Linked DNA regions of Homo sapiens. The protein of the gene in region 1 purifies or fractionates together with the protein of each later gene. This does not show direct contact. Each region holds a gene or a part of one and is shown in the gene's direction. Other genes may lie near its edges. The genes, in order: SACS and ACVR1.

Evidence for each region.
Region 2: the proteins of SACS (region 1) and ACVR1 purify together in Homo sapiens (co-immunoprecipitation; one large-scale study listed by IntAct). This does not show direct contact.

What each region holds. Positions count from the first base shown.
Region 1 is NC_000013.11:23,427,148-23,430,980, reverse strand, and holds part of SACS (sacsin), read left to right. Parts: intron 1-2,111; exon of another isoform or gene 2,112-3,833. UniProt on the Homo sapiens protein: Co-chaperone which acts as a regulator of the Hsp70 chaperone machinery and may be involved in the processing of other ataxia-linked proteins.
Region 2 is NC_000002.12:157,737,872-157,740,396, reverse strand, and holds part of ACVR1 (activin receptor type-1 precursor), read left to right. Parts: intron 1-1,826; coding exon 1,827-1,957; intron 1,958-2,525. UniProt on the Homo sapiens protein: Bone morphogenetic protein (BMP) type I receptor that is involved in a wide variety of biological processes, including bone, heart, cartilage, nervous, and reproductive system development and regulation.

The sequences.
Region 1 (3,833 bases):
ATCACTGAGTTCTCAGACTGAACTCTGAGCTCTGTTCCTACCATGGTATCCCCCTCAAGGCACTTCAAATTGACGACGATGTGAAACCCAAGGTGACACGTTGGTTCTGGGTTTTGTCAGGAGAGATCTGTGGTCCAATTATAATAACCTTACATCCAGACAAACATTTGTTTTAAATATTCTGCTCGAGATTACACCATGAGTTTGTCATCTGGGGCAGAAAATAAGGGCTCTACAGTCCACATAGCCTTTTAATGTGTTCTGAAATGACATTTAAAAATAAATCAAAGCCATCCTAATATAATTATTGGTGATCATTTAAATCCTTACCTCATTAAAGTACTAAGTGCTAGAAAGGAGTATTTGAATTCTATACGTATCTAGAATTTGTGCACATTTTCACATAGTACTACTTTAGCCTTTTTCCTTGTTTTTAATGCAATGATAAATTTCACCATTTAAAAACCCTGATAGGATTACAAGATTAAATACAAAAAATATTGCATAAGACATAAACATACTAAAAAATAATTCGTGGTTTATCTGAAACTCAAACTTAAGGTGTATATGTTTATATTTATAATTTTTATTTGCTAAATTTGGCAATATGATATAAACAGAGCTTTACTTGATCAATGATAGTTACTTAGAGCTTAAGGATATTAGTTTGTTAGGTCTTTAAGCTTCAAACATAAATTACAACCAATCTTTATGAGTTTTTTGTCAATTACACCAAATATTCCTTTAGTTTTATTTATTAATTTTTTTTTTTTGAGATGTTGTCTAACTCTGTCACCCAGGCTGGAGGCCAGTGGTGCAATCTCGGCTCACTGCAACCTCCACTTCCCGGGTTCCAGTGATTCTCCTGCCTCAGCCTCTCGAGTGGCTGGGATTACAAGTGACTGCTACCACGTCCGGCTAATTTTTGTATTTTTAGTAGAGACGGAGTTTCACCATGTTGCCCAGGCTGGTCCTGAACTCCTGATCTCCAGTGATCTGCCCACTTCAGCCTCCCAAAGTGCTGGGATTACAGGCGTGAGCCCAGCCAATATTATATTAAATGTTTATGCTAAGTGACCATCCAGAGACAATCCTGATTACAAAGAACAGATCTATGTTCATTTTACTGTCATATTCCTGAGAGTCCCTGCTAAGAATAGTAATAAAAAGTACCCAAGATTTTAATGTATTTGGAGGAAGATATACTGGGTTTTGGAACCTGGCTCCACATCATACTAGTTCTGACACTTAACCTCTTGCAGCCTCAGCTTCCTCCTTCTTAAATGGGATTCATGATAGGTTAAAAATCCCTACCTCGGGCCTGGCACGGTGGCTCACGCCTGTAATCCCAGCACTTTGGGAGGGCCAGGTGGGCAGATCACGAGGTCAGGAGATCGAGACCATCCTGGCTAACACGGTGAAACCCCGTCTCTACTAAAAATACAAAAAAATTAGCCGGGCATGGTGGCGGGCGCCTGTAGTCCCAGTTACTCAGGAGGCTGAGGCAGGAGAATGGCGTGAACCCGGGAGGCGGAGCTTGCAGTGAGCCGATATCGCACCACTGCACTCCAGCCCGGGTGACAGAGCGAGACTCCGTCTCAAAAAAAAAAAAAAAAAAAAAAAAAAAAAAAAAAATCCCTACCTCAACGACTGAATCACAGTTTAGTGAGCCTCTGCCATGGTTGTACATGGTCAATCCTCCCCAAAGAATTAGTTTTTAAAGAAATAATTGAATATTATTTTTCCTTCAAAAAGTCAATATTATTAGATAATATCAATTAAGATATTATGTATTCTGAAATGACACTTAAACATCAAATATATTTTAGTCATATAATCTATTTTTAAAATTTCATTTAGCAGCTTTGAGATATTCACATACCATACAATTCACTCATATGTGATATTATTTTTATGTAAAATTTTATCTTTGAGAATAATTGAGCTTTTGAAGGCAAACCTAAGACTCTGGGAGATTCTATTTCGGTGCCAGCCTTCTAGTCTCCTGCCTCCACAATTAGCTCTGCCAGTTGACAAGCTAGAATCTGAGGCCAGATAAACTACATACAAAATATGTGTAGTTTTATTATCTGTAAATTGGCTAAAGAGACTAAATTATTCACTCTTTATTGAATACTTTCTGTATCCATAAACCTAAGTAGGAGAGTCAAAGGTGAATAAGATATTCTTGAGCAACTTTCAGCAAAGTAGATGAGAAAGATTTGTATGACACAGAAGGGATTTGGAGCACTGGGGGAATAATTTATATATTTTTCTTATTATTGAAATACAGTATTTTTTCTGTTGTACATTTTACATCGAAATCTTTATTACACACACACAAAAGATCAGTAGCACTCTCCTTTACCTTCACCTTTTGTGCTCTAGAAACTATTTTACGTACATATTTAATTTCAGGATTATATTTAAGGTCTGGTACTGGCTGTGGTGACCCCCGACCTTTCCTGCAGCACACTATGCCAACACAGGTCTTTCATTAATGTCATCCAAAATGCTTGCTGTGCCTTACCTTTAAAGGTCTATTGATTTATAGCGTGAATTCATCCGACTTTTCCATTTTGCAAATATTCTATTTTTAAACCAATTTAGTCTTTGCTGACTCATATTTTCTCCTGAAGTTAGGAGAGTGAGATGATTACTTCGCTGATAATTCCCATGGAGGCGTTCTGTGGGCCTGAAGTCTGTCTGCATTTGGCTCCTTGTTTTTGTAATGATAGCGGCTTTCAAGGGTCAGCTTTCACCATATTCCAGAGGATTTGGCCATGTATGAATTTGGTTGAACCAAAAGGATGAATTTTTCATTCCCATCTTCAGATGAACATGGACCCCATTTCTTAGGAGATCACCAAGGGCAATTCTGCCTCTATTCCTTTCTCAAAGAGCGTTTCTAGGGAAACTCAAGCTGTTCTGCCAGGTGCAGCTGCAGAGGCGTGTCTGTGAACACGGCAGCACTGAAAACTATGAAAAGCGAAGGAATCCTTCAGGGAAGAGGGGCTTTACTAGTCCCAAAGACACTCTTAAACAAACAGACAAGACAGCATATCAGAGGAGATAGAGTATTCGTGTGGTTCCTGATTGTATTTTAACCTCATTCCTGCAGGAGAGGCCTTTCTTGTCCCGTCCTCGTCCTCGGGGACCAGCCAGGTGTTGCTGTCCTAGTTTCTGGGAAGCAGCTTTATCCCCCCTTCTCTCCGGTGCAATTCACTTTGTCACCTCAGGAACTTCTTCACTTCCCACACTCTTCTCCTGCCTCCCTCTGCCAAAAGGCTCTACCTCTGCCAAAGGGCGGCGTTTAGCTCAGGGAACAGCTCCCATTATTTATACAATAGTTATGATTTAAGTCCCCAGTCTCCTGGCTGTTCCTGTTTGAAACTGTGTAACTCAAAGAACTTTTCCCATCAGTGAGTAAGTGCAGCTGGCATGTTTATCTTCCTACTCCTTAAATGAGATCATATGTACAGTAGTGCCAAGTTTTCCTACTGTGGGTCAAGCCCATATGCCAAAATAGGATATTTTTGCTGGGAAGGCCAAGAGGTCACTGCGTGGCACATCTGCTTGCTAGCTGTGGGCAGTGGCTTGAGGTTCCAAGCTGGGGAGGAGGGGAGCCCCTGTCCCTAACAGCTGCTGGACAGCACTGATTGTTTTGACCCCTGAAGCATGAGAGGAGGTCATGAATCAGTGGGCAGAGAGTATCATGAACACATTTCATGTCACTTCATGTGTTAAAAAATATTAGATCAGCAAAAGTAGTAGCATCTAATATTTGCAAAAACCGTCTGCAGTTGACTAAATGCTGTTAGAACACAGCTCAG
Region 2 (2,525 bases), on another chromosome or scaffold:
GATTTTTGTTTGAATGTTTCCTGGGATCCTTACAGGAGAAGAAGGGCCTCTAAGATGAGGTGTTCCAAGATTTCTGAGAGTAGCAGTTTATACCCAATATGATGTTTATGATTTGCCAGGAAAGGTTTTAATCCACTGACTGATATGCATTTCAAATGCAGTTACACAATGTGGGTAAGTTATTTGGAATTAACTAGTTTTTTTTTTTTTTTGAGACAGAATCTCACTCTGTCACCCAGGCTGGAGTGCAGTGGTCTGATCTTGGCTCATTGCAACATCCACCTCCCGGGTTCAAGCAAATCTTGTGCCTCAGCCTCCTGAGTTAGCTGGAACTACAGGCACGCGCCAACACACCCGGCTAATTTTTGTATTTTTAGTAGAGACAGGGTCTTGCCATGTTGCCCAGGCTTGTCTCGAACACTGACCTCAAGTGGTCCACCCACCACGACCTCCCAAAGTGCTGAGATTACAGGCGTGAACGACCACACCCAGCCTAGATTTTTAAAAAATATAATTTAGACTTGTTTCCATCTCAAATATAAACCTTTATTTAGCCAAATTTGTGAAGTTTTAAAAAGATATGTAGCATTTCTTGAAAAGATGCTCCTTATATCTAATCTTTTGCATAAATGGTTTGTATTTGTATGGAATTTGTAAGGATGGATTCCCACTGTTGAGTAATTTCTGTGATAAATGAAAAGGGAATTGAAGCTTTTCAGGTGGCTTGTAGGAACTAGAACAACCGAATTACAACTTTCCTCACACTCCTTCTGTCGCCTCCAACAACTTCTTAGGTATTTAGGAATAGAAGAAAGTCGCCTGGAGGAAGAAAAGAGAGCAGTAAACCAAGTTATTACCTCATTGTTTGAACCCTTTGTTGAGGGAAAGGAAATAATAGATGTCTTGGTTTTATTTCTATGAAGGGGAAGAATCCATTTTCTAATTCCAAATGATGAAGTTAAAAATTTTTCTGTTTAAGGAGTTGATATAATTCTGCTGGAAAAGAAAAAGTTTCCAGGCCATTGGAAATCATGCAGGGGCAGAAGCTGGTATTAGCTACTGTTCATATTTGCTTTTGGGCAGAGGAAGAGTTCATTATTTATCCTTCTTTTCCTCTGCCTTCCCACATGGCTATCCTCTTTACATTTTATTTTGTGCCTTCAATATGATAGTAAATAATAGAGCCATCAGTCAGACAGCTGTGCCTGTAGTTAGAGGGTACTCAGTACATGTAGAATGAATGAATGAGGAAATGAGTATTTCCTATGATATTATTTGCATCCCTCCTAATGGAAGAGATTAATTTATAGCAATGTTTTTCTTAACAAAATACTTTTCTAACAAAGAAAGGGGTATTTTGATGATGGTCTTGGTTTATTACTCCCTAGCTCTAGTTTGTGGACAACTTTTTATTTCTATTTATGGTTTGAAACCACTAGATTCAGGTACTTTCCATAGGTAGCTTGGGTGGTTTTTATCACCAAAGGAATTTTTGTTCTATGTCTCCAGTGCCCTGTTGGGCGTTACAGAGCTGTTAATATACACTGTTGGAGAATTTTGCTAATAGTTATGATTACATGAGAAGTTTTCACGTATTTCCTTCTAACAATTATCCTTCTTCCAATACCATGCAGGGTGTGTATTTATTGCCTTTTTCTCCCACCTGTTTTAGGACCTACCTCTAGCTTCCAGGACTGCCCTGAGGTATGAGGAAGGTGATTAGTATTTTCTTCTGTCACATTATAACCTGTGACACCCATCAATGAAACCTTGGGGCAACCTGTACTCTCTTGCTAACCGAACACAATTCTTGTCCTTGTGTGCAGGTATAGTGGAGGATTACAAGCCACCGTTCTACGATGTGGTTCCCAATGACCCAAGTTTTGAAGATATGAGGAAGGTAGTCTGTGTGGATCAACAAAGGCCAAACATACCCAACAGATGGTTCTCAGACCCGGTAAGAATGCCAGTTTCTCAGTTTTAGAGCTCTTTTCCATTGTTTGCTATTTGTTTCCCTTTGAGTTTCAACTGGTATTGCATCTGAGTGATCTGTCCCGTGGATCTGTTGTTTTCTCTTCCTATTTTATATAGAAGGGTTTAGATCTAGAAGAGTAAGTTCAGAAAAATACTCCATTCTTGAAGAAGCCATATCTCATAGGGGTTGCTAGTGAATGACAATATTTGTAAGAATTTCTGTGAATATGCAGCTTCAGGAATCGGGAGACTCATGACTACTGCTATTAGCCCTAAGACTGCATGTATAAACCAAGAGACTTTAAGTGAAGCTTTTAACCTCCTTTCCATCTCTGTATATCTGAAATCCCAAACACAAGCTGCTGGATGCTGAAGATCCTGTATTGCTACTCATAAGTAGTAGCAGGTATAAAACAATGAGAAATGACCCTATTTGGAAATTTCAGGATTATCTCTAGGTTAGTATTGCTGCTTTTGGCACCCATAAAATCATTAAGGGGTCCAATCTGGCCTATGTCGTTTACCTAATAAATTGGTAGCATTAAGAGTCC